Regions from separate parts of the Homo sapiens genome. Here region 1 is linked to region 2. A link means that fine-mapping ties the variant in region 2 to the plasma level of a protein whose gene starts in the linked region. Region 2 holds a variant in brackets. A gene starts in the other region. All regions are shown on their forward strands.

The links. PIP is the posterior inclusion probability: the model's chance that the variant is causal. The UK Biobank Pharma Proteomics Project read protein levels with antibody pairs (Olink). The fine-mapping took linkage between variants from a reference panel, not from the people measured, so its PIPs are less certain.
Region 1: CHRDL1 starts here. The variant in region 2 is fine-mapped to the plasma level of the CHRDL1 protein (UK Biobank, PIP 0.94).

What each region holds. Positions count from the first base shown.
Region 1 is chrX:110,788,745-110,805,278 of GRCh38, forward strand. CHRDL1 (chordin like 1) reads right to left here and starts at 7,073. Exons shown (of 12, transcript NM_001143981.2): 1 at 7,000-7,073; 2 at 3,344-3,471. The coding sequence starts at 3,437.
Region 2 is chr12:473,582-490,115 of GRCh38, forward strand. The region is part of intron 1 of B4GALNT3 (beta-1,4-N-acetyl-galactosaminyltransferase 3); the gene reads left to right. It overlaps LOC124902853 (a long non-coding RNA gene), which reads left to right. Exons shown (of 2, transcript XR_007063151.1): 1 at 1-1,932; 2 at 3,756-4,044. Among named protein-coding and RNA genes, the nearest start is that of B4GALNT3, 22 kb to the left of the region's middle. The variant A/G (reference allele first, on the strand shown) is at 7,798.

The DNA.
Region 1 (16,534 bases), not on the chromosome of region 2:
AAACTTGCCAATTGTGGAAATTTTGGAATAGACAGAAGCATAAAAGTGAGCAAAAATAACATTCATAAACCTACCATCCGGAGATTTAAAAAAAATTAGTTCCCCATTGCATACCATACAGGAATATAAATTTCAGATGGAATAGAGAACTATGGGTAAAACATAAAATTATGGCAGCAGTAGAAGAAAATATAAAAATATAGGGTGAGAAAGACCTTCCTAGGAATAAGAAATCCAGAAGCCATACAGAAAATGAATGACAGATCTGACTACGTAAAATTTTAAAACTTCTATATGGGAAAAATACAACTTAAAGATTAAAACAAGTGGCATATCAAAAATAATATTTAAAATATAAAAGGTTAATAAGTAAGTTTTTAACAAATAAATATCACAAGCAACCAAACTAAAAATAGACAATTCACTGAAGAAATAAAATTGAACTAGTACATAATCGAAAAGATGCTGCAGAAAGAGAAAAATACCAAGCAAAACTTACAGATTATTTCTCCTATTAAAATGGCCCCAAAATACAAAGATTGATTATAATCTTGGTGAAGGAATTAGAAATGGACTTTCATACATAGATGGTGGGAGCATAAATTAATACAACTTATATGAAGGGCAATTTGACAGTACTTATGAAGATTAAAACTGAACATGCACTTCGACTATTTCTCACAAATACTTGAATAAGTGCCTAAAGATGTTCATAAATGTCTTACTTTTAATAGCAAAAACCGGAAACAACCTCAATATCTACAAATATAGACTGGTTAAATAAACCAATGCAAACTTATGCAACTGCAAACCATGCAAGCATTAGAAAGAATATGGCACTATTACATTGCAATGTATTGACATGGAAGGATGTCCTACACACATTATTGAGCAAAAGCAAATCACAGAAAAGTGTATATAATATCCTATTTTTGTAAAATAAAATATCATACAGGCATGTATATATAATTTTATAAAACAAAGAAAGTAGTTTGGAAGATCACACAGCAAACCACTAATAATGGTTATCCCAGGAGAGTGGAATGAGAGTTTAGGGACACATGTTCCATATGAAGCTCAGATGCTTTCATGTTGTTTTGTATAATAAGCATATATATTAATTTTATAATTTAAGAAACTTAAAAATAAGTTAACAAGCATTTCCCAGGGCCACCAAATTTTCAATAAACAGTGTTTTTAATAGTAGCATTATATTGCATTACCTGGATCATTTTTGTAACTATTTATCTATGAACTGACATTTCCACTGCTTCTGACTTCTCACTGTTAGAGCTGCAATATAAATCTCTGTGCATGCATATTGTGTGTGTTTGTGTATGTGCATGCATATATCAAGACAGCATATATAGGACATATGCTTTGAGGTTTTCCCTTTAGCAGAGATGATTTTGCATGTCTTCAGAACAGTTAGCTTGGGCATGGACACACATAATGATGCTCAGTGGCTCACTAAGGGAAGGACCATGACCTTAGCGTCATCATCTGACAATAAGCCTGAAACACTGGACCAGATCTGGTGCCCTAGGCCATCTGTTACATAATCACTTTGGCACCAATTGAATATCAAAAGGGCTTGGGACAAATTCATCAGCACAAGGAAATATTAGAAAGTAGTAGATTTGGGTTTGTAATTTTTTTAAGTCACATCTTTCTTTGTCTAAGTTTCATGGACAATATTCAATTCTTCATAAATATGAAAGGCTTTCCATAAGAGATGGTCTTCTGAGAGTTACAAGCTTTCCCCATGAGGTCATCATTAACAGGCTATAAGGGAAGTTTCTCTCTAAGACAGGAAGATTTTTTTGTATAAATTTAAGGGGTACAGGTGCAGTTTTGTTACATGGATATATCGCATAAAGTGTGGACTTTAAGTGTAACCATCACCCAAATAATGTACATTGTACTTATTGAGTAATATTTCATCCCTAAGCCCAGCTAATTGTGAGCTGAGCTGAGAATGCATGGATGCTTCTGTCACATCCACTTAAATCAAGGAAGGCTTCTGGAAGAGGAGGATTCTGAGATGAACTATATTCAAGTGGAAGAAGAAGGAAGCAATTTGAGGGATACAAGAGTAGAGGCTGATCCAAGCTTCCTTGCTGAGATCATGCCCCACTAAACTTCCTTTTGTGTCCCAATCATACTAGATATCACCATACACCGCTCATGCTCAAAAGCATAATCAAAAACACTATTAAACACTGTTTCTCCCAGGAAGAAGACTACACTTACTATGAAAATTGTAGTGGGACAGAAACACACTTAAGGATGGAATAGGCTTGGCACTGTTCTCCTTGTCAGCAAGCCTTCTGCCTGATCTATTTAACTTATGTGATAAAAGAGATAAAGGTTTAAGTGAAGGGCTTCAGATGCTGCTTCAGTTCCTACCAAGAATATTTTCACAGCTCCTTCTCATGAATAAGTTCAGTGAAGCAGAGAATGCCCCTCTTGGACCAATTCCATTTTGTGCTTTTTTTGATGCTGTCAAAAAGGGGAACTAGAGCTTAGGCTTTTCCTTCAAATTTAGAGCAAGCATCTACCTCAGAGATGGCTGCAAGTGGCCCAAAGAAGGTAAGACCCACATTGTGCAAAGGCAGCAAGAACGGATATGTCGACCGTTACTCATAAATCTCCTAAACGTGGCAGCAAGGAGGGTTAATTATCCCCCCCGCCCCCACTTCCTGCCACTCTCTGCTTTCTCCAATGTGTTAGCCCATTACACGGATCGCTGACTTTCTAGAAATATTCCCTGGCTTTGCGGGGATGTTCTTTTCAATAAATGGCATCCAATTTGCTAACGGTCCCTGGAATCTCAATTTCCTCAAAACATTTTTCATCTGAGCCCAGTTCATAGGAAGGTTTCGTCCTTCCTCGTTTTTCGGCATAAGGGAATAGGCAGAGCCTGCTTTTCTTTTTCTTTTTTTTTCTTTTCTGTGTCATTATTTTTCATAAACTGAAAGCCTTTGCTGAAGAGTCTGAAATTTGGGAAAATTCCAGCTCATCTGTCAGATATTTCTAGAGTTACGTAAAATGTAATGAGATTTGTATAGTTTAGAACAGGGAAGAGAAAATAAGCTAATGTGTCATATGTTCTATGAGACAAAGACTACATGATAATCAGAAAAACAGCCCCAAATTTAGTTGGCCTGATTCAAAGCTCTCATTCTTTTATCAATTCATGCATAAACCAGTAACATTCACTTTCTTCTCTTAGAATAATGGCACGGCCACATTTGGGCTAAATCATAATTGCTACAGATTATAGCCACATTTTCAAAGAAATTATAAAAAGTGTATTATTTTCCAAATGCAAGACACTTACGTTTTACTTGCTCTGTTTTGCCTCCTTCTAGCAAAAGAAAGAACAACAACGAAAAGATGTATTTCATGCCTCCCATTTTCCACTTTTTTCTCATTTGGACCACTGCAAAAGGTGACAGAACCTTCAAGCTGTTGGGAAGAAAGCAGAAAAAAGACTTAACACAGATCTTCTGGAAATGATAGAGGTCACTGATGCTCAGGCTTCTAACCTGCTAGAATAAAAAAAAAATGTCCTAGAATTTACATAAGTGTAAGTATTGTCTGCCTGCACAAGATAAAGGACTTGCCTCTCCTGTCTTGCAAGGCTTGTGGGTGAAAATTCAAGTGAATGAGGGTGCATTCCTATCCAAAGCTGAGGCTAAGTCCTTACAGGCAAGTTATAGGAAAATGAAAATAAATTTTGAAATCTTCCTTTCTAAGGGAATTAAAGTTGATTTCTCAAGAGATTTTTTTGGGAGAAAAGGGAAACTTTAGCTTGCAAAAACGGTTATTTTAGCAAACAAGGTAAAAGTAACAAGCATGAGACCAAGCAATTTCTGAAATGAAAGTTAACTAATCTTAGCTTCAAGACTACTTTTAATCCTTTTGGAATGAAGTACAAATTGATCAGTTTCTCCTGTGTCCTCTATGAGATCTACAAGGATCTTTGGTTTGGCAACTAATATTGCAAAAGATAGATGTAATTAGCAAATGGATGCAATTAAACACCTGAAAAGTTTTACTGCTTAAAATGGTTCCAACATATTCCTCCCCCAAGAAGTCCATTGTAAAATGGAAATTTTAAATGGGCCATTTTTAGGGGAAATTGGGCAAATTAAATAGATAATTTGTTCACCTTGCACCACCATGCAAAAGACCATTAAAACAACTACAGTTCTTCAAAACATGAGATTGGCATTCCCAGTATAAGGGGTAGAAATCTTAAACCTTTTGAACCTTGGAACACAGAAAGTTTGCTGTAGCTCACATCTAGTCACGGATCATTTCCACAGATGTTAGAGTTTGCAAAATTCCTCCAATGGGTGATCTGAAAATATTGAAATGTTCTAAAAACACCAGATTCAATCTGAATGGGAAATGAACTCATTGATCTTTCCAGAAAGTCCAACCTAAATATTGCACATAAAGAACTTGAAGGAATGCAAAACGATCATTTTGGAGAGTTGAATATCTTTGGGCTCTGAAGTAGATGCTACAGCTCCTACTTAAATGCTATGAAGTTGCCTGGGTCATTCAAAATCCACTGTTTCAATTATGAATGCATAACCAAGGAAGAACTGATGATAGAGTAATCTGTGCTATCAAACAAGATTTGCAGCACCGTCTGCCTTCCTTCTTTACCTCCTCCCTGCTCCTTAAAGAACCAAATTCTCTCAGGACATGTTCCTACCCATCTAAAGACCTGAGTTCTGATGTCTTGGTCCCCTCTGTGAGTTTGTGGCCCACTTACAATCACTCAGAATGTTACTGTCCCTTGAGGGCTACCACGTTTATTCGAAACAAATCATTTTCATTAACAATTTAACACAGCTACCCACCTCAGTGAGGTTCTTCCTGAGCCTATTCTAATAAGTTTATTCCCCAAGCCTCCAAAAGAGAAAGATTTTTAACCACTGAAATCCAATTTATCACATTCATATATGGATTTCAACGGGTGTTTCTGAAACCATGGTTTTAGGGTCTCCCCATGCGAGAATCAACAGGGCTGCTTTTCTTGTATAATGGTTGGGCGATTCGGTGAACTGTAGCATTGCTTCATAACTCAAGTTGGCAAGAAAACAGCTCATAGATTTTTTTGCCTTTCTTAGGTCCCAACTAATATTATGAGCAAATAAAAAAGTTGGTAACTAGAGAGCAATTAATCTCCTTTGGCGTTCCTGTCATCTGTGTGGCCTCCCAGGCTGTGATGGAGAACATCAGAAAATGAATCGCTTTATAAATATTCACTTTTGATTTACAAGATCCTGAAGTCCTGCCTTTGTATTCTGTGCAGAAATATGAACCAAGAAGAGTTCCCTCCCCAGATCTCCTCACTGTTCAATTTCTCTTTATCTCTTCAGCTTTTTCTTTTAGGGAAGGGGGTGGTTCAAAACATGTGTTGGGACTGCAGCAGTAAACACTAGCAAGCATTGCTCAGCGAACTTAGCCGACTCTTATTCTTGCAAAGAGCCAAACTGTCCTTAATTTTTCAAATTATACTTTGACCCAGTTAACTGGAGTTATTTCTGCATTAACTCTCTGTCTGCTTCACACAGGCTGTTGTGCCATTGAACTTGCACTGGCTCTTTTACAGGTTACTTAGACATGTAGCCATTGACATGCTTCAGGGGATCCAGGACCCAACAAGAAAGCAACAACAACAACAAAAAAACAAAACCCTGCAACTAACACAGGTAGTGGAGGTGGGATGGGAGAGTTCCTGTGTTTTACAAGAGAAAGAGAAATGTATCAAGTACCAAAAGAAAGGTATTTATTAAGGTGCTTCCATGAAACAAGCATTCACATTGTTCATCTGCGTTAAGCAAAGGGACCAACTGCTCCTTGCCCAGCTGTGACTGCAAGGCAATCTGGGCCATCAAGTGTCAGGAGCCCACTTTCAGAACAGGTCTCCTGGGTAGAACAGAAGCAAAGAGACATCCCCACAGGAAGGCTAAGGGATGAACACATGTCAGCCAGTTCTTCACGCCCCACAGTGTCTCTTTAATCCTCCTGAGAGGCTTGACTGACCTTGTAATCTCACATTGACTATCATCTGTGGGACAGCCCCTAGGGTAGCAATTTTCTTTCCGACAAACAATAAGAAAGACACTGGAGTCCCAGGCCCTTGTCCATCAGCTGAAATCCTCTCCCCACTCTACCACCCAGCAAGAAAAGTTCAGTTAACTGGTGGTGTGTTGCCACTGAAAATGGCAGTTTTAACCCAGGGTATCTCTTGTTGGAGGAAATGCTTTCATTGCTGCTTATGACTGACAAACAATGCCTCGCATTTGGCTTGCAAAACACCTTTCTATCATTTCATTTCATTCCACACAACTCCACCTTCAAAATGGGCACTGGGGGGACCCAGAGAACTCAAATAACTTTAGTGGCAGGGCTGGGAGGGACTGGAAAGCAGGCTTTCCGGGCCCTATGTTCTGGCAATATACCACGTTGCTTCCAGAGCCTAGTGTCTCAAATTCTGACCCCCGTAGTCAGGGACAAAAAATGAGGCAGATGGCCAGAGGATAGGATAGGGAGCCTTTCGCCCATCTACCCTGCTACATTAACTTTACCATGTATTCATCAGCAAAATGAGAAAACAGGCTCAGGAATACAGGCAGTGATTAAGGGGACTGCAGAGTCCCTTGGGTAGCTCAGGGTGGAGTACCTAAGTGACCTCTCAAAGCGCCAGAGCATAAAGAAATGCAGGCCGAGTGGGGAGGGACGAGCTGTGAGTTCGAATTCAGAGACCCCCAACTTGCTTTGGTCAGAAGCCTTGGGCCCCACCTCCATCCAGGTTGCTAACTGCTGGAGCACAGAACAGGTTGGGGTGGCAGGGGAATTTGGGGCACCCTGGGGAAACTTCCAGGGACGGCTCCGGCCAAGAGAAGGCAACCCACCTGTGCAAAGGCTGGAAAAGGAGGTGAGGGAAGCGGGCGCCGGGCACTGCTCACTAACCTGGGCACTGGCCTTCTCCGTCTGCCACGCGTGCACGCGCTCCGAGCTCCCCGGGGCGCTCTCGTCCGAGGTCTGGGGCTGGCAGGTTGTGGCGAGAGCTAGAGTGCGCGCGAGGGGGGAGGGGGAACTCAAAAGTGGGTGGGAGGAAAAACATCACCGCCCTCACACCACGAGGGAGCAGCGGCTTGCTCGGCTCCCGGGGGCAGAGCCAAGGCGCGGGCGCGGCGGCCCGGGGCCACCTGCCCGCCCTCCCGCTCGCTCCCCACTTGGCCCGAGAAGCCGGCCGCTCGGCGCTGGCGGGAAGTCCGCAAGCACGCAGCCGCTGCAAGCACGCACACTTTCTCCACCCCGGCACAATGGCTTTATTTCTGCTCCCCCGGCCCGAAAGTTTAAAAATCGGGAGAAAGTGTGAGACTCAGCCGGCTACTTTCCCATCACACAGCGCCCCCACTGCAGCCCCCACTCCTTTGGCTAGGCGAGCGTTGGGGTCTTAAAGGGACCGCACAGCTCCTCCGGTCCCTCCTCCCCCTCTGCACTGGATGCACCTAGGAGCTCCCCACCACTCGCGCACGCCCTGAAGATACCGACTACCCTCTGACTCCCCTGCCTGGAAGCCCACACCCGCTCTCCTCCGGCACCAAGGCCTTTCCGAGGTGTGCACCTGGTCTGGTACTGAGCTGGTGCCCTGGACACAGAATGAACCCTCCTCGCAAATCACGCCCTAGCATGCTGCTTATCATTTCACGGCGTTTCCCATATCCACACTGTGGCTAACAGAGTGACAAAGCTTTGGTTTGGTGTCCTTAAAGGCGGGGTGGAGATGGGTGTGTGTAGGGTCAGGGATTAGAAATCCACTTTCTCTTACAAACTGGGCTCCCAAGCCTCATGGAAAGGGCCTGTTCTAACTGTTAAGTGTCTTGAAGAAAACTTGGTGCCACACACTATACCCACCATTTTTTTTTTAAATGAGTCCCTAAGCTTCTAAGTTGGGCCAAGAGCTCAACCTGGAAATCACAGTAGCACTGCTGATGCCTTGGTGGGCCTGCCTACTCCAAATTTGTGTTTATTCAACAAGTGATAGTTGCAAAGAATTGTCAGAAACTTCTAGGGTCCAGGAAAGTGCTGCCTCGACAGACAAAATTTTAAGCCCCTAAATTTGGAGAAGAACCGCAGAGCTTTTTTCTAGATGAACTAGATAAATATCTATATTCCTAACATCTGTATAGTACTTTATGGCTTACGGAGTGTTTTCACATACATCAACATTACTTTTTAAACCCTCAAAACCAACCGAACTACCTGAGGTCTCAAGTGTTAGAGTTGGTGGGGAACTTCTGAACCATTCAGCTTAACTTCATCATTTCACAGAAGAGGAAACTGAATTGGGGGAAGAGGATGATGTATCTAAGGTCACACAGCTAGTAAATGACAAATTTGAGATTCCAATCCAGATTCCCTGACTTTCAACCCACTACTCTCTGGTTGTTATCTCCAGTCTGTAGATGAGGAAATTGATGTTCAGAGAAACTGTGGCTTGTCAAAAAAACAAACAAACAAACAAACAAACCACTTATCAGGAACAGAAAACAAAGAAAAATTAAAACAAGAATAATTGTCCCTGAACGTTACCTCCTTTTGCTTTTTCAGAAGTGTTAATAGTATCCAGCTAGCCCCTGCATTGCTGGTGATGTTTATTTCACTGTTAACAAAGGAAAGGGGGCCCTTTCTGTAATGTTGCCTTCAGGGCCCAAAATGTCTAGCTCCGTCCTGCTGCCTGGGTAGCCATACACTGCCACATGCATTCAATTTGTGCTGTTGTATATCGGTTTGAACTTGCTGATTTGTTGCCTTATAACTGTTCTCATGCCGTTTAATGCAGTGATGTTTTGTCTTACTAGATTGTGAGTTCTTCAAGGGCAAGGACTGGTTGTTCAATTTCTCTTGTGCGTGCATTACCCAACTCCCATCATTACTTCCAACATGCTTACAGAGTATTCTGGAAAATGAGTTTCAAGGGATAGTCTGAGACAAACATAAATTCTAGCATTTAAAATAAATAGACTCACTGGGATTTAAAAGTTCATCTATTTGGCTACAACCACTCACTCCCTTGCTTGGTGTAGAATCCTAATTACTGCATAACAAACCATCCGAAAACCTAGTGGCTTAAAGCAAGCAATTATTCTCAATTGGTTCTATTGAGTTGATTCTATTGAACTTGCTTAAGATCTCTTATGCAGTTGCAGGCAACTGTATATGGGGCTGCTGGAATTCTCTGACAGGTTTTTCATTAGTGTAAATGTTAGTCATCCTTGTATTTTGTATTAGTTCCAATCTTGATTTCTGAATTGAGAACTCCCATTTGGGTGAGTCCTAATCTAGACATCCTACCAGGTCTTATAGAAACTTAAGTGATGATTACCTTCATGCTTTATTTTCTCTGTTTATTAAATAGGGATGAGAGCATAATCTCATACTCATTTTTTAAAAAGTTTTATTTTAAGATAATGGTAGATTTACATGCAGTTGTAAGAAATAATTCAGAAAGATCTCAAATACCCTTCACCTAGTTTTCCCCAATGATAACATCATTCATAAATATAGTACAATGTCACAACAGGACACTGACATTGGTACAATCCATTCATCTTACTCTGATTTCACCAGTTTTATATGCACTCATTTGCCTGTGTATATAATTCTATGCAATTTTATCGCATGTGTATATTCATGTGACCACCACCACAGTAAAAATATAAAACAGCGCCATTACCACAAGGATACCCTGTATTACACTTTAATAGTCACACCCATCTTTTCCCTTCCTCCTCTCCCTACTCCCTGTCAACTACTAAACTAAATTGTCCTACATCTCTATAATTTTGTCATTTAAGAATGTTACGTGGAATCATACGGTATGCAACCTTTTGAGATAGTCTCTTCTCTCTTCTCCCCCAACCCTGATATAATTCTCTGGAGACCCATTCAAGTTGTTCCTGGTATCAATAGTTTGTTCCTTTTCATTGCTGAGTGGTATTCCATGGTAGGGATATATCACAATTTGTTTAAACCATTCATCTATTGGAGGGTTGAGTCTAGATTTCGGTTACAACTGCTATGAACATTTGTCTACAGGTATTTGAATAAGCGTAAGTGTTCATTTCTCTGGGATAAATACCCAACAATGTAGTTCCTGGGTTGTATGGTAAATGCATGTTTAGTTTTGTAAGGACTGTCATACTGTTTTTAGAGCAACTGTACTATTTTATATTCCCACCAGAAATGTGTGAGAGATCCAGTTTATCTGCATTCTTGCCAGCATTTTTTGTTGTCATTATTTTTTATTTTAGCCATTCTGGTAGGTATATAGTGATATCTCATTGTGGTTTTAACTTGCATTTCCCTAAAACCTAATGATATCTACCATCTTTTCATTGTTTATTTGACACCTGTATATCTTATCACAAATATTTTATCCCAGTCTGTAGCTTTTCTTTTCATCCTCTTCCCTTGAACTTCCACAAAACAAAATTTTTTAATGTTTTATGTCCAATGTATCAAATTTCTGTCATATAGGTCATGTTTTGGCATTAAGTTTAAGAACCCTTTACCTAGCTCTAGATCCTGAATATTTTCTTCTATATTTTTGTTTTAAAAGTGTTATAAAGTTTTACATTTAATTATGATCTATTTTGAGTTAATTTTTATAAAAGGTATAAGGTTTAGGTTGATGTTCATATTTTGCCTATATATTTTTGTCCAATTGCTCCAGTATCATTTGTTGAAAAAGCTATCTTTCTTTCATTGAATTGCTTTTACACCTTGATCAAACATTGGTTGGTCATATTGTGTGAATCTATTTCTGGCTTCTCTATTTGATCCCATTGATCTATGTGTCTATGCCTCCACCAGTACCACGCAGTCTCGATTACTGTAGACATATGGTAGGCCTGAATTTCAAGTAGAGTGGGTCCTCCCACTTTATTCCTCTTTTTTAGGGTTGTTTTAGCTACTCTAGGTCTTGTACCTTTCCACATAAACTTTAGAATAAACTTGTCTATGTCTACAAAATATCTTACTGGAATTTAGCTAGAAATTGCATTAAACCTATTGATCAATTTGGGGACAATTGACAAATTTAATTTGTTGAGCATTCCAATCCATGAACACAGTATCTCTCCATTTATTTAGGTCTTCTTTGATTTCATTCACCAGTGTTTTGTAGTTTTCAGCATATGACTTCTATACATATTTTGTTAGACTCGTATCTACATATTTCTTTTTCTTTGGAGCAATTGCAAATGTTATTGTATTTTTAATTTCAGTTTCCATGCACTCATTGCTAGTATATATGAATGCAAGTAGTTGTTGTGTGCTGATCTTCTATGCCATGTGTTGCAGAACTCATACTTATTTAAAAAATAAATATGTAAGTGGAGGTATTATGAAATGATTATATACAAAATAATTTTCTGATAGCACAAACTTTTTGCCTTTTAGTGCTTCTTGTCCCACTGGGACTTAGAAAACTCAGGTTATTAAATTAACTTTCAAAAATGGCAGAATACATAAAGATTGATGAGTATATTGTACTATAGGTTTACCTCTTTTTAGAAAAGATGCCACCAACTTAGAGTTTGTATTAATCAGATACTTGATTCAATATATAGAAGTTGACAATTCTCTGTAAAGACCCCTTAGGATTATTCAGCTATATTCTAATGAGCCCTTTTGTTATTTGTGTATGTTCTTGTTTGTTACTGAAATTTTTCTCTGTTGTATTTTCTTCCTGCTAGCCATTTCTAAAAACTGCTAGAAAAAAGAGTAATGTCCATCAATGATAGACTGGGTTGAGAAAATGTGGCACATTTACACCATGGAATACTATGCAGCCATAAAAAATGATGAGCTCATGTCCTTTGTAGGGACATGGATGAAGCTGGAAACCATCATTCTCAGCAAACTATAGCAAGGACAAAAAACCAAACAACGTATGTTCTCACTCATAGGTGGGAATTGAACAATGAGAACATTTGGACACAGGAAGGGGAACATCACACACGGGGGCCTGTTGTGGGGTGTGGGGAGGGGGGAGGAATAGCATTAGGATATATACCTAATGTAAATGATGAGTTAATGGGTGCAGCACACCAACATGGCACATGTATACATATGTAACAAACCTGCATGTTGTGCACATGTACCCTAGAACTTAAAGTATAATAATAAAAATAAAAAAATAAAAAAAAGAAAAAAAAAGAGTTGGTATGGTTCATCTAATATTTCCAGCTTTCCTCCTTTTGAGCTCATGGTAGGATTTTACTCCTCTTCCCTTTTTGAAATTAAGTATTGCCATTTGATTTGCTTTGGCTAATGAAATCTTAGCAAAAGTCATGTGTTGCTTATTTTTACAGCATAACCTTCAATACTGTCTCTTAGCACCAGTGAAAACAATTCTGTTTCTTAGAATTTTATGACAACCAAATAAGTAAATAGCAAGAGTAGGTTATAGATTCTTGAAGGTAGAATTAAAAGGAGCAGATTCTCTTTGTTTTAATGTATTCTTATAAGTTAAGCTGTCATTTTCTATTTATGCCTTTCAGTTATTGTAGTAAACAAAAATAACGCAAAGTATTTTTTATTTGTGCTTTGTGTTATATATGAATATTATCTTATAGAAATAATTTTCTTTTTTAAGTGATTTTAAGATATTTTTAGAAGCATTTTAAGTGATTCATTTCCCAAAGAAACACATCTCCAGATTTATAATAAAGGGCATTGTAAAAGCAAGATTTGGCTTACAGAAAATTTCAGGAACATATTTATTTTTAAAAATCAAGATAATCTCATCATAGTATACAGGATTATATTAACTACCTAAAAGATGAAAGGAGTTAATTTCTTGATCCAAAATTATATTGTGCTTCATCATCACCATGAGTGGGTCATATGGGCAGAGCATAAAATACACCACTTCTGACTGAAGATTTGTTTCAGATAGTTTAACTGCATTTCCAAACAGTTATACAAAGGTGTTTAAAACTTTTAATCAAAGATGTCATGAAAAATTGGAGACATAATATGTCCAAGTGTTATGCTATGCATAGAAAAATGCAATATGGTAGAATAGAAACTGCCTCTCTAGAAGCTGTATTCCTATAGAATGTTGATTCACTTTATCAAATTTCATTTGCCTAGATAGCTTACTATAGGACCTCAAAGCATCCACAGTTCCCTAGAACCTCCATGAACTTCCCAGATTTTTCACCTTTATTCCCAGAGCTAGGCAGCAGATTGATTTATTATTATTTTTCAGCAGAAGCAATAAAAATCAATGTTTAATTGTCTTAACCACAGCATCTAGGTCTCCTCAGGGAAGTAACATGATGCACAAAGAACCAAGACAACTAAGACTATGGAATCAAGCATACTTGAATTAGAATCCCAAAAAGTCATATAGCCTTTCTGAGCTTGTTTCCTTATAGTATGTAAAAAGGGGATGATGATAAGGTAACTGTGGCAGTTCAATGGCCTACTGTATGTGGAGTGCCTGGAATATAGTAGGTGTGCAATAATTGTTTCTATCCTCACTGTCCCCTCCCTGCTTCCATCCACTTAGTCCAAATGTGAAAGCTATTGCACATTCAGTAAAGTTCTTTATTAGCTAGTCAAGCTTCAGTTTGTCTGTCTTTAAAAGAAAGTGGGGATAAAAGCAGGAAGAGAAAACCAATAATTAACCCAATTTCCCACCCTATTCTTCAAGGCGGGGAGTAAGTTGGAGAGTAGAGTGCCAACATCCCTTCAACAGAAACAGTAAAGAAACTAATGCCAAGATGTAAAATTACTCTCTCCTTGCACACAGGTGCACAAGCACTAGCTATTGTCCTGGTGCCTGGAGACTATTATAAAATGTTAGATGCAGATTTGGGGCTAGTATGCTCTTCTCTAGCTTCATGTCACATGGACTAGAAAACAAGACTCAAGCCAGAGTAGAATCATAAGAAGCCACCTGGATATTCTCAGATCCACATTGCCTATTCTTTTAGTTCTCAAGTAAAGAAAATTTGTTTCTCATTAGGAAAGATGCCGGCAACTCAGCTTTAGAGCTATAACCCAGGGGGTAAGAGCAGGAACCAGAGATTCCATAAAGCAAAGATGACAAACTGCTGACCCAAGGGCTGAAGAGAGCCTGCCCACATTTTTTTTTTCAAAATTTGAATTGGTTCTAAACAATCTTTAATTTTTATTATTGGGAGATTTTACATAAAAGACCTTGATTCCAGTTTCTCATAAAAAAATAGATTTACTAGGAACACTGGGCCGACATCTCTCCATGGTAACACAGACTGGAATAGAGTAGTAGCCGCTGCTTTTAGACAGCATATGTGCTTGCCAACTGCCACAGTCCCCACCACTCCCCATTGTGTCCCTTTTGTTACCCTCAGGCATGTTTTACTCATTCACATTACTTTCTTTTTTTTTTTTTTTATTATACTTTAGGTTCTAGGGTACATGTGCACAACGTGCAGGTTTGTTACATATGTACACATGTGCCATGTTGGTGTGCTGCACCCATTAACTCATCACTTACATTAGGTGTATCTCCTAATGCTTTCCCTCCCCCCTTCCCCAACCCCACGACAGGTCCCAGTGTGTCATTCACATTACTTTCATAACCCCTAGAGATGTATGAGTTTGAACCATTATGTACAATGATAACTATTTGAGAAGTGGCTTTTTAGGGAGGAAAACAAAAACCCTGATTTGTAGCAATTTCCGACTTCTGTTGTGTAAATATCTCCTACATGGCCAATTTCAGACTAACAATGTGTTGTCACTTAACATGAAGTTGGTAAAAGCTGTGCACAATGACTTCTCACAAACTGGTGAGAGCTGGCTCTGGAGCACTACTGGCTTGAATTTGCTCAAAAAAGCTTCATCGAGTTAATGGAATAGTTAGGAGCGTGAGCCAGGAGATCTTATTCATAGAATGAGTCAGAAATCAACCAGAAAAAGTAAGCTTCAACACTTGACATGGAACCTGTCTTTAGACCAACACTACTTCCTTGTTCTCTATGTCTTTTTAAAAATCCCACAGGCCAATTATCTAGCCTTTGGGCATAGGATAATCTGAGAGGGAAGTATGAGCTAATGAAGGGTGAGCACTAGCTTGAGGAGGTCAGAAGACACAGTACAGGACCCCTAATAGTACTGCTGAGTTCTTCCTGTAAACTGAATACTGTCCTCCTTTTGTCCTTACAGGAAGGAGACTAAGGGAAGGGACTGCGGAGAGCAGGAAGCCATTTAGAACCCATTTAGAACCCAAGTTCAGAGAGATATTGAAATAGGCTGTGAATCACATCCAGAAATCTCTTCTCACACTAGAACTACAGGGCTATGACCTATGCATGTGGCAAAGACCACAGGCAGGGACATCATCCTGTCCTATCCCGTACCGGAAAGTGACTGTGCATAGAATACTACCTGGAAGGTGAAAACTCTAAAGCTTCTTAGAGACAGCTTAGTCCAAATCTGATTAATTCACAGAGAAAAAAACTGAGGCCCAGAGAGGAAGATAAGTGGCACAACCAAGTCTGGAAGCCAGGTTTTCTGACAGCCAGTCTGGGGCTTATTTCTTCTACCTCACACTGCCTCTCAGGAGTTAAAAAGCAAAAGATTCAGTCCACCAACTGGTTGTGTTGCCAAACCAGCAACATGAATAATATTTTTTGACTGAATCAACTGTCTCTTTAGGCATCATGTAGACATAGTCAAACACTCATCTCCAGTTTTCTCTGTGTTTGGATGATTTAAAAACCTAACAGAGAATCTGCACGTCCAGGGAGTTTTGCCAAGAAAATCTGAAAATCTAAACAGTCACTCTCACATTGGCCCTATAACCAAGTGTCCAAATCTTTTTTCCCCTTTTCATATTAGAGAAAATATAATGTTCTTGCCACAAGGAAAGCAGCATCAGAATCTGGAAGGATTCTTGAACTGCGAGTTATGACTCTTGGCTTTAATTCTGTCTCTTCCTTGGATGGGTCATATCCCAACCTCCTGCTCCCTGTGGGCCTCGGTTTCCCCGTCTGTAAAATGTAAGACCTGAACTCCATGATCTCGTAGATTCCTTCAAGCTCTAGCAGTCTTTCATGGTAAAATCCTAATCCAAGTGTCCATTCACTCAACTCATTGGCCCTTTCCAACCTGTGTTTCTCTGGCTACAGGAACTTCTGGAACCCAAGTGCCAGAGACAGAGCTGTGCCTCTAAAAGACTGCAAGACTTAGTAGTTGGAGTTATTCTCCACTGCAGCTAATTTATACAGGCAGCCTCAAATTTTTATCCTCATTAGAGACCCCTAGTATTGCTGTCTTTGAATTTTCCTGGTAACCTCTCAAGTCATAAAAGCTCCCTGAAATTGAAAAAAAAAAAAAAACCCTCAAAGAGTCATATCTTTAAAAATAAAATGCCTAAACCCGAAGAACCTTTTACTAGATTATGGGCTCCACTGCTTATTCCTCAAGGGACTCTTGT
Region 2 (16,534 bases):
AGAAATGGTCTCCTGAGAAAAAAATGCCTTCATTTGTCCTTGTACTTTCCTCTCTGGAGCTTGAGTACCATGGTGGTCCTACAGAAGAATGCAAAGGGTGGGGAGGCAGACATTCATTCAGCAGGTGTTTACTGAGCACTTGTTATATGCCAGGCTATGCTCTGGGTGTTAGGGAGATCATGGGGAACAAGAAGTTGGAAGAGTTTGCCATCACAGAGCATACATTTCTGGTGAGGAAGAGACAGAGGATAATCGCGTAAACAAACAGATCGGGATTTGAGATGGTGATGCTATTTGGGAAGAAAAAGAAGCAATAATCGCACAAAGGGACTAGCTTGGAGGATGAGGGGGCTCTCCCAGAAGTGACAGTCCTAAGACAGATAACTCAGGGCTGGAGGACATGACACCAAAAGGGTGTCAGGATTACAAAGACCTCAGGAATTTGGAGAATGGGAGCTGGGTAGAAGAGGAAAAAAATGTAGAACAGAGTCATTGCTGGTTTTCAGGATAAGCGTCTCCTTCCTAATCCATTGTCCTGAAAACAACGTCCTCCTTCACCTCACTGGCAGGAATAGAGTCAGCCTCAGACTTGGAGTTTTCTACCAGGAGTGCTTGAGAAAGAGGTACTGGCTAAAGACTGTCTGGGCTGGGCAGAAAATGATCGTGGCTTTCTTCTTCATCACAAACCCAGATCCCAAAACCAGTATGGGGGGATGGGGGATGTCCTATTGAAAGCCAGACTGGAACTAACCCCGTCCCCTCCCTCACAACACTTTTTCCGCACGTCCATTAGTACACTTATCAACCTTAGCATTGGATCAGAGTTATTTTTGTCTGTTTGTCTTCCCCCATGAGATTGTAAATTTCTAGATACTGGACCTGGGCATTTCCCCCTCTTTGTGGAGAGATTTTTAACCTTTTGTGGATCACATACATCCGTAAGAATCTGATGAAGAGGCCAGGCACGGTGGCTCATGCCTGCAATCCAGCACTTTGGGAGACTAAGGTAGGAGGATGGCTTGAGCCCAGGAGTTTGAGACCAGCATGGGCAACATAGCGAGACCCTGTCTCTACATAAAATTTAAAAATTAGCCCAGGCCAAGCATGGTGGCACACACCTGTAATCTCAGCATTTTGGGAGGCTGAGATGGGTGGATCACTTGAGTCCAGGAGTTCAAGATCAGCTTGGGCAACATCGTGAAACCCTGTCTACAAAAAATATAAGAATTAGCTGGAAGTGGTGGCACTACTATAGTCCCAGCTACTCGGGAGGCTCAAGATCACTTGAGCCTGGGAGGCAGAGGTTGCAGTGAGCCAAGATTGACCACTGCACTCCAGCCTGGGTGACAGAGGGAGACCTTGTCTCAAAAAAAAAAAAAAAAAAAAGCCAAGTGTGGTGGTGCATGCCTGTGGTCCCAACTACTCAGGAGGCTAAGGTGGGAGGATCACTTGAGCCCAGGAGTTTGAGGCTGCAATGAGCTATGATCTCACCGCTGTACTCCAGCCTGGGTGACAGAGTGAGATCCTATCTAAAAAGAAAGAAAAGAAGAGAAGAGAGAAAAGAAAAAAGGAATCTGGTGAAGAAACGGTTACACTTTCCCCAGAAGTTTGCTCGTCTCCTGTATATTTTGCATACTATTTTGGGAGGAGGTACACAGTCCCCTGACCCCTATACATGGATCCCTAGTTAAGAACTCTGCCTGAAGCTTTACCCAGTGCCTGGTATGTTCTTGGAGTCTGATGACTTGGGAATATTCTCCTTATTAAATCTCCTTGCTCTAGTTGCAGGGGACAGATGTTAGGTGGGAGAAAGAGAGCCAGGAAGAACCCTGCTGCTGGGAGATGCAGAAGAGTGTTTAAATCATCCATCTGGAAGCAGCCATCCAGAGAGCAGTAGCTTCACCCTCACTTCCTGTCCCGGCAGAACCGGAGGTGGGGTCTCCTCCCTGGGCTTGGTCTTCCCTTGGGCTCTGCCGCGCCTCCTCTTCGCCCTGTGCCTGCTGTTTTCCAGTCTCATGACATCCCTCTGCTTGTCTTTCAAAACTCTGCTTATCCTTCTCTCTCATCTCTTCCCTGAAGCCTTCCTCAATTATTTTAGAACCAGCTGACTTCGTTCTTTCTGGAACTTGTGTTGCACCTAAGTTTTCTGAAACTTACAATTGATCACTGACTTTCTTTCATTCCTACTTCATCTGGGTTGGTCTTGCGTGTCCCAGCTAGGTTGCTAGAGAAGCCAAAGATGGCTCCAGAGTATCTGGTTAGGACAGTTTGCTTCACTCTCCCCACAGCATTGATGGAATGCTTGGAAGAGGCAGGCAGTTCCCTTAGAATCGGGTCGGCGCAGGCTTCGCTGTGCCCGTGTTTCCTCCGTATGGACATGGCCATCCTTGCTGCCTTAACTTCTGGCATTGCTGTTGTGCCCTCCAGGCCATCTGCTGCTGTCTTTGGTCCTCCATTTCTTCCTTCCTTTACCATGGCATAGTGGTGAGAAGCTTTGAAGTCAGACTACGTGACTTTGATCCCCGGCTCTTGTCCTTAGTCAGCTGCGCCTCAGTGAGCATATTATTGAGCCTCAATATGTCCCAGTTTCTTCTCTGTAAAATGGGACTATTAATGGTACCTGTCTCATTGTGTTTTTGTTGTGACAATTAAGTGAAATAATACAGATAAAGTACTTAGAACAGTTTCTAATACATAGTGTTTGATAAATGTTAGCTGATGGCTGGACACAGTGGCTCACATCTGTAATCGCAGTGCTTTTAGAGGTTAGAGGCTGAGGTAAGAGAATCCCTTGAGGCCGGAAGTTTAAGACCAGCCTGGGCAACATAGCAAGACCCCCATCTCTACCAAACAATAAAATAAAATAAAGAAAAATTAGCTGGGCATGGTGGTGTGCACCTGTAATGCTAGTTATTAATACTTGGGAGGCTGAGGCAGGTGGATCGCTTGAGCATAGGAGTTGGAGGCTGTAGTGAGCTGTGATCACGCCACTGCACCCCAGCCTGGGTGACAGAGCAAGGCCCTGCCTCATAAATAAATAAATGCTTATCTGAGCGCCTAGTATGTGCCCAGAATTGAATGTTGATTTGAAGATACATGCAGTAGATGTTAGGCGCCATTGTTTATTATAACTTAATCAGCTTTTCAATACCCTCTGTCCCTGTTTTGATTGGTTTTAGCATGCTGACTTTCACATATCAAAGAATCCTAGGACAGGGTGGACCCCAGGGGTGCAGACATGGAAGAAAACCAAAAGCAAAGCAGAAGTCCAGAGATTTTAAATTCTGAAATGGATTATATCTGCATTTCTTCTTCTAGGCCCATGGCAGACATCTCCAATAGAACATGAAATTCTTTTACCGAGCTCAGCTGCAGCCTCAGAATTTTCTCAACATTTCTCACCAGGCAGTCACTACAAATTGACTTGAGCTGCCCCTTAAAAAGGTTATCTATTTACCCAGCCTCCTGATTTTACCAGTGAAGAATTGAAAGCCTGGAGAGCTTTAATCAACCTGCCCATATAGCAGTTTATAGGACTCCTGGTGCCTAGACTATTGTTTACAACACACCATGCCACTCACCCTCTGCCTTCGCTCATTCCCTTTTTGTTTGCTGAGGATGCCTCCTTTTAACATCTGAGTTTCACGAGGTCAGGGAAGATCCTTTCTTTTTCTAACTGCCCTAACAATCTGGTAGTATATTGTGCCTGCATATAGACCAACCTCAAGTCTATTGATCTATTTTTTTCTTACCAGTGAACTAGCTGAAGTTATTGCCACTCAGTTGGGGGTGGATCATGCATGTTCCCAACTCAGCTGCCTTTAGGGGTGATCCATGCACTGACACCCTGCATTGACATTGATATTGGAGAGTAACCTGCAAAGAAGTTATTGTTGATGTTGAATTGAATTTTCACATTGCACGAGAAAGGCCAAGGCTCGACATTCTTCATCCAACAGGTTCCTTTGTTGCACACTCCCGTCCTGAGAAACGGAACCCATTCCAGTGTACAGCTTCTTAAATAAAAGGCAAATGGAGTCATGATTTCCTCTCTCACTTTCTTGAATCGAGAAGGGATGGGAAATAATGAATAGATGAAGTTGATTTTAGATCAGAAGAATCCTGGAACACATGAATGATGAAGCCCTTTGGTAGACAGATTCATGATGTATTTAAAACATTGCTGTCTTATCCGTTATTCTTCTCTCTGTGTAGAAATATACAAGTTGATGAGGGCAGATATTTTCATAATCCTAGTTCTGTTTAGCAAATGGAAGTCCATTACTGGCAGTGTGAGGGTAAAAAGTGAAATGGGTAACAGATTAAAGAAAAGTGGCAGAGAGGTAGCAACAAATAGGTTCAGAACATGTTTGGAAGATTATAGAGGGGGCACAATGGTTCAGAATGCCTGCAATCCTGGCACTTTCAGAGGCTGCTGTGGGCATATTGCTTGCACCTAGGAGTTTTAGAGCAGCCTGGGCAACATGGCAAGACCCCATCTCTACAAAAAATTTAAAAGTTAGCCAGGCATGGTGGCCCAACCCTGTAGTCCCAGCTACTTGGGAGGCTGAGGTGGGAGGATCGCATGAGCCCAGGAGATCAAGGCTGCAGTGAGCTGTGTTCGCACTACTGCACTCCAGCCTGGGTGGCAGAGTGACACTCTGTCTTTAAAAAAAAAAAAAAAAAAAAAATTAGAGGAGGTAAAAAAAAAAAAAATATTCAAGCCTGATTTAGCTTGTTGAATGAGAATTCAATTTTGCTTTGATGCATGAAAATTGAAAAAATATTTGCATAAAGAAAATTCTCCAGTAGTAAAGCTTTAATTAGGTTGCTTAGGAAATACCACCTGTCTGTTTTAGGGAAGTATTTATTGATTGAAGCAAGAGCTATCAAATTGGAAGTCAACATTTACCATTTTGAGAAAAAGAAATGGGCAAAAACTACCCAAGGTACTTGTTAATACAAAAAAGAATAGGGAAGTTCAGTTTCTGGGATATAGAAATTGGTTGTGATATTTTCAGTGATGATTCTTCTAGCAGCTTTTTCAACAGGAAAAAAAATCCTTAAGAAAGGGTTTTTCTATCTTTTTCTGATCCTTTGTATCTCTAAGAAGGTTGGGAAAGTTCCAGGGTGGTGAACACTTTCTCCAGCCGGCAGGGTTTTCACGAACCAATCTTGGGAAGGAAGGGGTGGAAGGGCAGGCAAACAACAGTACCCTGTTTTTACATAGAACCTTTCTCCTGGGAAGTCACAGCTGTGGTTACCTTCAGGATCAGAGGTTGCTACTGCTCTTCTCCCTGAAGGAAGTTTGGTCCTTTTCCACCCATCTGGGAAGGTGTCCTTATGGACAATGGAAGTGGAAAATGACACCCACCTAGCGTGATGAATCCTGGAGTTCGCTGGGAAGACAGAGGTTACAGCCTCCTTTATAGAGAGGGGAAACTAAGGCAAGAGGAAGCTGGCACAGACAAACCTATTAAGTCCTGAAGGAATCAAGGCTTCTGACTCAGCTCCAGGTAGGGGATGTAGCAGAGTTCAGAAGCTCAGCAGGCCACAGGAGACAGCCTAGAGTCTCTCTGCAGTGACCTGACTCTTGGTGAAGGTATTTTGTTTCATGGCTGTGGCTTTTTTTTTATTATTATTTAAATGAAGCAGGGTCTCACCATGTTGCCCAGGTTGGTGTCAAACTCCTGGGCTCAAGCCATCATCCGACCTCAGCCGCCAGAGTAGCTGGGTTACAAGCACGTGCCACCGTGTTCAGTGATGGCTGTGGCTTTGATGGTGTCACTGCCCCACTCTGCCCAGATCCCTTCCCTGAACTGTTGTTCTTGGACTGCCAAACTGGGTAGGGGCAGTAGGACTTTGAATCTGGTCATCAGCAGTAAAAGGGGATATACTTAGGGGACCTTTGGTCACCTAACAGCCAAGAAGAGAAACAAAGTGAAGTCAGGGAAATATGGGGGACAGGATCTTACTTCTAAGGACTCTCGATAAGGGGGAAGTTGAGCAACTGTGTCAGGTGCAGATAAAAAGTCTGGAAGAATGATACCTGGGAAGAAACCAGCACGTTTGGCCAAGGAACAGGGAGAGTTACTGGTGAATTGTGTTAACTGAGACGTGCCGCAGCAGGAGGACGGCAGAAGCCACGTTGTAGAATCATAGAGTATTTAGGCTGGAGGGGAACACCGTGTCCAACTGAGGCCTTTAGTGGTCGGGTGATTTCTCTCTCGTTTTTGCTCATGTAAGTGCAGTGGATCCTGGAGTTTGTTACCAGGATGGGGAGTTCTATTCAGAACTGACCAATTAAAAAAAAACCAACCAGGATGGGGAGTTCTTTTTTTTTTTTTTTTGAGATGGAGTCTCGCTCTGTCGCCCAGGCTGGAGTGCAGTGGCGCCATCTCGGCTCACTGCAAGCTCCACCTCCCGGGTTCACGCCATTCTCCTGCCTCAGCCTCCGGAGTAGCTGGGACTACAGGCGCTCGCCACCACCCCCTGGATAATTTTTTTGTATTTTTAGTAGAGACAAGGTTTCACTGCGTTAGCCAGGATGGTCTCGATCTCCTGACCTCGTGATCCGCCCGCCTCGGCCTCCCAAAGTGCTGAGATTACAGGCGTGAGCCACCGCGCCCGGCCAGGATGGGGAGTTCTATTCAGAACTGACCAATTAAAAAGGAAAAAACATAAGTCCTTTTTCTCTTAAGCATATGGTTAGGGTAAGAATACTCTTGTGGGATTCAGGCTGTGTGGGGTCCAGTCTTGGTTCTGTGGGAACTGGCTCTGTGACTTTGAGCAGGTCAGCTCTGCCCCCGGACGTCAGTTTCCTTTTCCGTAAACACGGAAGGCTTGACGGTGTGGTTCCTGAGGTCCCTCTGACCCTGACATTACGGAAGGCTTGACGGCCTGGTTCCTGAGGTCCCCCTGACTGACATTATTCCCAAAGAAAATGCATTGGCCTTAGCACTGGGGATTCTGAGTTGGCCGTGGCTGGAGAAAGACTATGATAAGGAGCCCTGGGGAGATGCCTGGGTTCCTATTGGTGACCTCGCCTTCTCGTTCAAGCAGGACGGGGAGTGGGACCCAGGCCCAGCCTTATCTCCGGGACCGCGGCTGTCCTCACCCCTCCTCCTGTCACCTGAGAATAAAAGGGTGGGCTCCATAGGCGGGGGCTGTGAGGAGGGGTGCAATTGCATGGGTCATGGACGATGGTCCTTAGACATCTCTGGGGAGCCTTTGGCGGGAGAGGCGCAGGGACTTGGGGGCACTTCCCCAGGCCCTGGTGACCGTGGTCATCTTTGTCACAGCCTCCTCCTCTGCCCTTGCAGGCCAAGGACTGGACCAGTCCCTCTCAGCCTTGCCTCTATCTCTCCCTGCCTGCTCGGCAGCCAACACAGAAACACTGCTGTGTGCTTAGCCCAGGGGTGGGAGGGATTTCTGCCCAGGGATTGGCCATGGAATTGGCTGCTTATTTTGGCAGCTCCCACCACAAAGACCATCAGACGCTGAGGGAAGGCGAGGTGGGAGTTAGTGAGTCATGGCCATGCCTCAGGGAGGGAGGGAGCTTTCACCAGAGGTGCCCCTGGAGGAAGCAGACTTCCCCTCCAAAGAAGAGGGGTGGGACTCTGGATGCTTCCTCCCAGGGTCACTGGCTTAGGTCAACTAAGGGGATGAGCATCCCCGTGGCGTTCTGTGTAATGGGAATAATGGCCCTGACCTCACAGTGCCGTGGCAGCAAGTTGAAAAGCTAGCACATCAAGCTCTCAGTGAAGGGTTGCTTTCCTTTCCTTGGTGTGCCTTAGG[A/G]TATGACGGGGTAGGCACCATGGGTGCAGACATGGAGGAAAACCAGAAGCAAATCAGGAGTCCAGCTGCCCACATCCAGTCACTCTTGATTCTCGTGGTTTCTCCAGTGCCCAGCTGAGGCTGGCCATGGTGGGAAAGTGGGACTTTGCTCTGTGCTGCCTTCTCCTAACCCTGTGTTGTCCTGAGGCCAGGCAGACAGGCCCCAGTCATTACCTCACCGCAGGGCCCCTGTCTGCCAGAGTGCATGGTGGAGCTGCCTGGGTGGAGAGCGGAGCTAATTTTAGACCTGGAGACTCTTTGCCAACAGCTGTGGCTGGGCCCAGGCAGCTGGGCTGGATGGCTGGGGGGAGTCTCAGCCGCCCTGCAGGGAGCCCTGGACACAGCGCTCCAGGTCTGCTCTTGGGGGCATATTCCTGCCTCAGCCTCAGCTGTGGGGAAGCCTGGATGAGGGTCCCTCTGCACAGAGGGTGCTTCCTTCCTCCCTCTTGCATCAAGATATTTCTGTCCTCCATCTCCTCTTTCTAGGTGGCTTTGTAGACCAGAAAACATTGATACGGCATCTTAGATGGTAGGTCAGTGGGCCTCTGAAATGGGGCAGGTAGGGGCAACAGGAAGAAAAGGGTGTCCCCAAATCGTTCTGGGTTTATAGGCTAAATCCAGCCTCCCACTCAACCCCGAGCCAATAATCTAATTGAGTGCTTCTCAACCTCCTTCCTGTTAGTACACAGAGAAAATGACAGGAAAAGATACTTGTAACACACATAGGGGTATAAAGAGGTTTGTGGTTGGATGTTGCCAGCCCTCAGATTCTGCTGCTCCAAGCACTGAGGGCTGATACTTTGGGACACGTTACCATTTGGAGCCTACTAGCAGCCACAGCACACCAGTGGGGAAGCTCTGATATCGTCCGTCAGTGGCTTGCCACAGTCCATGTATGCCAAGTCCAAGCTTCAGGAAACATCTCCTTGGCTAATCATAGACCTGTGCTGGAAGGGAACCCAGAGAGCATTGAATCTGTGCTCTCCTTTTACAGATGAGGAAACTGAGGCTGAAAGAGGCTTGTCCAAGGTTAAAAAGCTAGTAAGTCAAAATCCCAGTTTTAAGTTCTGTTAGGACAGTCATCCCTTCATTTATCCAACATTTATTGAGTTCCAATAAAGATCAATATTTGGAGGATACAATGATGAAAAAAGTTGTGGGGATTCGTCTGTATTTGGTAAAGAGAAAACCAAGGAAACCATTCAGGAAGGTCGTTATTTCCGGTGAGAGAGATGGGGATGTGATTGGAGAGAGGCACAGAGGGCTTCAAAACGTGTCTGTTTCTTAAGCATATGCAGCCAGGCACCGTGGCACACACCTATAGTTCCGGCTACTCAGGAGGCTAAGGTGAGAGGTTCACTTGAGCCCAGGGGTTTGAGGCTGAAGTGATGTATGATAGAGCCTGTGAATTGCAACCACATTCCAGCCTGGGCAACATAGTGAGACCCCATTTCAGAAGGAAAGAAAGTGTACACAGGTGTTATTCTTCTTTTCTCTCTTTTTTTCTGGAGACAGGATCTCACTCTGTCACCCAGGCTGGAGTGCAGTGGCATGATCATGGCTCACTGCAGCCTTAACCCCCTGGGTTCAAGTGATTCTTCCACTTCAGCCTCCTGAGTAGCTGGCACTACAGGTGGATGTCACCTCATCCAGCTAATTTTTTTTTTCCCTTTGGAGAGACAGGGTCTTACCGTGTTGCCCAGGCTGGTCTTGAACTCCTGGGTTCAAGCACTCCTACCACCTCAGTCTCCCAAAGTGCTGGGATTATGGACATAAGCCAGGATGCACGGTTGTAGGTGTTATTCTTTAAACCATCCTATATATTCCTTTAGATGCATATTTCTTTTAAATAGCAATTGATAAATATAGAAAGAAAAGTGAGACAGCTAGAGAAAAGTGGCCTGTGGAGTTAGGTAAGGAGAAAGACAAGTAGCTTTGCTGTTACAAGGCAGGGTGGTAAGAACCATGGCAAAGCTATTATAGTAACAGCCCAGCTTGGCTGGACACAGTGGCTCATACCTGTAATCCCATAACTTTGGGAGGCCAAGGCAGATGAATCATTTGAGCTCAGGAGTTTGACACCAGCCTGAGCAACATGGTGAAACCCCCTCTCTACCAAAAATACAAAAAATTCACTGGGTGTAGTGGTGTGTGCCTGTGGTCCCAGCTACTCAGGAGGCTGAGGTAGGAGGATCGTTTGAGCCCGGGAGGCAGAGGTTGCAGAGAGCTGAGGTCATGCCACTGCACTCCAGCCTGGGCAACATAGTGAGACCCTGTCCCCCACAATAAATAGTAGCCCAGTTATGTGCACGTGGCACATGTGATCTCATTTAATCCTCACAACGGACACTTTCTATTGTTTCCATTTTACAGGTGAGAAAATTGAAGTTCAGAGGTACTTACCTTGTTCAGAGTTTCATGGTGAATCTTCTTTGCAGTCAGATTCAAGTGCTCACATCTTAGCCATGACACTGCAATGGTGGAGGGGCGAGTTGACTTGCACAGTGAGCTGGCCTTGGGGTGGGATAGGGGAGAAAAAGGCAGGAAAGTTACTAAATCTCTCTAATTTGTTTCCCAGTTCATAAAGTGGAACTAACTTTACTTGCTGCTCCTTCTTGTCCAAATAATTTGAATATGAAAGCACTATATCAGCATAAAAGCTGACATTTATGAGGAACTAATCCCGTACCAGCGACTTTTCAGGTGACACCTTCTCTAATCGTTCCTTGACCCCATCAGGAGCACACGATCCCTGTTTCACAGGCAGACTGCCTCCCTGCTCTTAGCATCCTCCAGTTACACATCTCTTTCCGCCCTGCCTTCCCCGAGGTGCTGGCTTTCACTTGTCAGTGACGGTCATTCTGAGGCTGAGATGTAAGAGATACGAAGTACCTGTCCTTACCCCACCCCTAATGCAAGCAATGCCATCCTGTTGGCACGTGCCACGGTTATCTCTGGGGCCATCACCCTTTGCTGAGAAGGCTGAGGCTTTGAAATCCTTGAGCTTTCACAGTGGTTCTCGGCCTGGCTGCACACTGGAGTACCTGAGGAGCTTTAAGGACTCTAGCTTTAAGAATTATTCGTGTAAGACCTCACCCCAAGTCAATCAGTTAGATTTGAGAGGAGGAGTAGCCCAGCATCATTCTCCAGGTGACTCTGAAGGGCAGTCAAGGTAGAGAGCCTCAGGTGTACACTTTCTCTCCAGATGAGCTGAGCTGAGAAATAAAGGGTCATGAAGAGATGAGAGAACACAGCTAAGCAATGACCTGGATGCCGCCTGGCCCCAGGCTGGCCCAAGGATTAGGCAGGACAAGTCAGGAAATGGGAAAAGAAACAGAGAAGGAAGGAGACAATGAAGTCTACAGGAAAGAGGAGAAAAATTAAAAAAAAAAAAAAACCACTCGTTTTGGTTTGGAGGATGCTAAATTCCTCCCAGTAATGGTCCCAGACCTTTCCAGTGGTATGTATGGTGTGAATTCCGGTGTGTTCTGAACTCAGGTCCATCCTGTGGTGTATGTGGGCTTCAGGAGATACAAGGAAGTGTGAACGCTGTCCAACTGGTATTCCAAGAGCTATGGTGTTCTCGCATAGACAAAATATACACGTCACACATAACACATCCCTTTGGCATGTTCTCCCCAGCACCCAGAAGCACCCTCATGAGAAGTGAATTCTGGCATAGAGGAGGAAGACGTGGTGTTGGAGGTGGGATTTGAACTGGGGTGTATGATGCAGAGGACTTAGATGATGAGGGAGGATGAAGACAGAGGAAACAAGCACGGATGTGCCAGGGACAGGACAAGCCTGGCCTGATGTGAGAGGAGGCTGCTACATCCCCAGCAAGCGTGGGCACTGAGAAGAAAGATGTACTTACAGTCCAAGGGCAGCAAAGTTGAGAGAAAAGGAGGGAGAAACCAGCTATGGGAAATGGATCAGGCTCAGTAGATATGTGAATGGTAGATTAATCACTTGACCACACAAATACATTTTCTATCTCTACTTGGAGTCTGATTCTATGACATTAGGAACCAGCAAACTGGGACCCCCATGGTGGGGTGGTGTTTACAGATGTTCCACTAGGAGCAAGAGATGTGAAGAAACCAAGACCCAGAAATATGTGAATGACCTCAGGGTCGATAGACCCAAGGCTTCGGCTGGCGACTGAGAATGACAACAATGATTCTCAACCTCAGCTACGAATGGGATTGCCTAGGAAGCTTAAAAAATAACTGAGGCGATACAAGCATATGATTTATCGACACTCACGGAACTGTTCGTGTAAAATGGATACATTTTATTATATATAAATTATACTTTAAAAAGTTGATTTTTAAACCTAGTCAACTTCTGGTCTACCATGTAAGGAGCTCAGAATCTCTGCCCTTCTGTCCTAACCACAAGTAAAGAGCTGAACAGACTGGGAAATCGACAATTCTTAGATTCCTCAGAGAAGGGAGGTGAGAAGGAAAACTGCTGTCCCCAAAACTGGGGAGACAGGTAGGCAGATGCAGAGAATCACAACTTACCAAAGCAGAAATCCATGAGCAGAAACCTCTGCAGAAACCAGTGTCTAGGCAGGAAAACCTAAACTGTAATTGATGAATTACTGGAGGCTCAGTGTGAACAAGTCTGAGAATTAAAAATTCCAGGGGACTCAGTCCCAAGCTTGTGTGAGTTTTACCTCTAGGAGCCTACCAAGTCCTCCCTGTACATTTTGGAGAAAAATCCCCTTCTACTTCCAGCAGGGGGAGGGAAAAAGAAAGCATTCTGAAATACACCAAAATATTCTTTTTTTTTTTTTTTTTTTTTTGAGACGGAGTCTCACTTTGCCACCCAGGCTAGAGTGCAGTGGCGTGATCTTGGCTCACTGCAACCTCCACCCCTCAAGTTTAAGTGATTCTCCCACCTCAGCCTCCTGAGTACTTGGGATTACAGGTGCCTGCCACTGCACCCGGCTAATTTTTGTCTTTTTAGTAGAGATGGGGTTTCACCATCTTGGCCAGGCTGGTCTTGAACTCCTGACCTCATGATCCACCCGCCTCGGCCTCCCAAGTGCTGGGATTACAGGTGTGAGCCACCAAGCCCGGCCTATTCTGTTTTTCTTAACAAGGCCTGCCCTCAGGGGAAACTATTTTACGAGCCTGACTTGCTGTCCTAACCTACCTAGGGGAGGGGAAATACCCAACACCAGCCCCTTCTGGTCATCCTGTCCCATCTAGAGTGGGGAGAAGTCTGATGTAGATCACAGTCCAGAGGCAGAAGCTCATTGAAAGACTGAGATAAAACTATAGAATGCATCTGCTCCTGGACACCTAACCACGATATCACTAAAGGCCCTTTTCATAATTTGTTTTACTCAGCACATCACTTTCAACAAAAAGTTACGAGGCATACTAAAAGGGAAAAAACACATTTTGAAGAGACTGGACAATTAGAACCAGAGTAGGTATGGAAGAAGTGTTAGAGAGGCCAGACATTTTTTTAAACTATGATGATTAATATATTAAAATTTTTAATGAAAAAAGTAGACAACATGCAAGAACAGATGGCTAATGTAAGCAGAAAGATGGGAATTCTAAGAATGAATCAAAAGAAACCCTAGAGATCAAAACCCCTCTAACAGAAATGAAGAATGTCTTCAATGGACTCATTAGTAGATGGGACACAGCTACGAAAAGGATCTCTGAGCTTTAGGATATGACGACATAAACTTTCAAAACTGAAAAGCACAGAGAAAAAAGACAAAAACATAACAGAATATCCAAGAACTGTGGGACAATTACAAAAGGTGAAATATACATAATGGAATATCAGAAGGAAAAGAGAGAAACAGAAGCAATATTTGAAACGATAGCAACTGACAGTTTTCCCCAAATTAATGATAAACACCAAACCACAGATCCAAGAAGCTCAGAAATCATCAAGCAGGATAAACACCAAAATAAAACAATAAACACAATACCTAGCCAGACCATATTCAAACTAAGGAAAGTCAAAGATTTAAAAAAAGTCTTGCCGTGTGTGGTAGCTTACACCTGTAATCTTAGCACTTTGGGAGGCTGAGGCGGGCAGATCACTTGAGGCCAGGAGTTCGAGACCAGCCTGGCCAACATGGTGAAACCTGGTTTCTACTAAAAATACAAAAACTAGCCCGGTGTAGTGGCGCATGCCTGTAGTCCCAGCTACTTGGGAGGCTGAGGCAGGAGAATCACTTGAACCTAGGAGGCAGAGGTTGCAGTGAGCCGAGATCGTGCCACTGCACTCCAGCCTGGGCAACAGAGCGAGACTCTATCTTGAAAAAAAAAAAAAGAAAGAAAAGAAGAAGAAGACCAAGAAGAACAGCCTGGGAAACATAGTAAAACCTTGTCTCTACCAAAAAAAAATTTTAAAATTAGCCAGGCATGGTGACATGCGCCCAGCTACTTTGGGAGGCTGAGGTGGGAGGATCACTAGAGCCCAGGAGGCTGAGGCTGCAGTGAGCTGTGGTTACACCATTGCACTCCAGCTTGGGCAACAGAGCAAGGCCCTGTCTCCAAAACAAACAAAAAACCCAAAACTTGTAAGTAGCCAGATAGGGGGAAAACACCTATCAAGAAGCAAAGATAAGAATTAACATCTGACTTCTCAGAAACCGGGTATGGGCCAGTATGGTGACTCACGTATGTAATCCTAGCACTTTGAGATGCAAACAAGAAGTGAGTCAAGTGAAATATTTAAACAGCTGAGAAGAAGAAAAAAAAAAAAAACCCCATCAACCTAGAATTCTGAACCCTGTGAAATGATTCTTCAAAAGTGAAGCAGAAATACTTTCTCAGACAAACAAAAATTGAGGGAATTTGTTGCCAGTAGACCTGCCTTGCAAGAAATGTTAAAAGTAGTTCTTTAAAGAGAAAGAAAATGATACGTCAGAAACTTGGATCTACATAAAGAAAAGAAGAATGTTGTAGAATGAATAACTGAAGGTAAAATAAAAATTGTAATTCTTCATTGATCTAACAGATAGGTTTATTCAAAATTATAACAATGTATTCAATTATGTATGCTCATATATACTGATGTATGCTTATATATAAGTGAAATGAATTGCAGCATTAATGCAAGAGATGAATAGGCAGAATTAGGAATATTTTGTTATTGTAAAGTACTTGCACTACCTGTGGAGTGGTATAGTGTTGTGTGAAAGTGGATGTCCCAGCCTGGGCAACATAGCAAGACCCCATCTCTACAAAAAAATTTAAAAATTAAATTTTTAAAATTTTTTTAACAATGGCACATGCATGTAGCTCCAGCTACTTGGGAGGCAGAGGTGGGAGGACTGCTTGAGCCCAGGAGCCCAAGGTTGCAGTGAGCTATGATTGCACCTCTTCACTCCTGCCTAGGGAACAGAGTGAAACCCTGTGAAAAAGAAAAGAAAGAAAAGAAAAAAGAAAGCAGATGTGGTTTACTTGTATGTTGTAAACTCTAGGGCTCCACTGGAAAAAAAAAAAAGTATAACTGATATGCTAACAAAGGAGAGAAATAATGGAATCATTAAAATGCTCGCTTAAAACCACGGAAGACTGCAGCTATAAAAAAGAATGGGTTCATGTCCTTTGCAGGGACATGGATGAAGCTGGAAACCGTCATTTTCAGCAAACTAACACAGGAACAGAAAACCAAATACCACGTTCTCACTCATAAGTGGGAGTTGAACAATGAGAACACATGGACACAGGGAGGGGAACATCATACACTGGGGCCTGTCAGGGGTTGGGGTGGGGGGGCAAGGGGAGGGAGAGCATTAGGACAAATACCTAATGTATGCAGGGCTTAAAATCTAGATGATGGGTTGATAAGGGAAGCAAACCACCATGGCACATGTATACCTGTGGAACAAATCTGCATGTTCTGCACATGTATCCCAGAACTTAAAAAAAAAAAAAAACCCACAAAATACAGAAAAAGAAAGGAAGACAAAAATAGAAAGAGAGCGTAAGGGCAATACATAGACAATAGTAATAAATATGATAGATATTATTAACCCAGGTATTTTAATAATCATTTTAACTGTGAATGGTCGAAATAAACCAATTAAAAGATGGAGATTGTCAGAGTGCATCTAAAAACAAAACCCAACTGTATATTTTCCACAAGATAACCACTTTAAATAGAAAGACTCATATAGATTAAACGTAAAGGAATGGAGGAAAATATACCATGCTAACACTAATAAAAAGAAAGCGGAAGAATAGATGAATCCACTGTTAGAGTTGAAGACTTCAACATCTCTCTAGAAATTGACAGATGCAGCAGCCGGAAAATTGGTAAAGACATAATTGAACTTAACAGCACCATCCGTCAACTGGATATAATTGACATCTATGAACTGCTTCATCCAGCAATAGCAGATTACTAATTCTTCTCAAGCTCACATGGAACATTTACCAAGATTGACCATATTCGGGGTGGTAAAACACACCTTAACAAATACAAAAGAATAGAGTTATACAATGTCTGATCTCAGACCACGATGGAATTAAACTAAAAATCAATAACAGAAAGATAACTGGAAAGTCCTCAAATATATGGATATTTAAAAATGTGCTTTCGAATAACACTTATGTCAAAGAAGAAATCTCAAGAGAAATGTAAAAATCTTGAACTAAATGAAAATATAACCTAAAATTTGTGGGATGCAGTGATAGCAGTGCTTAGAGGG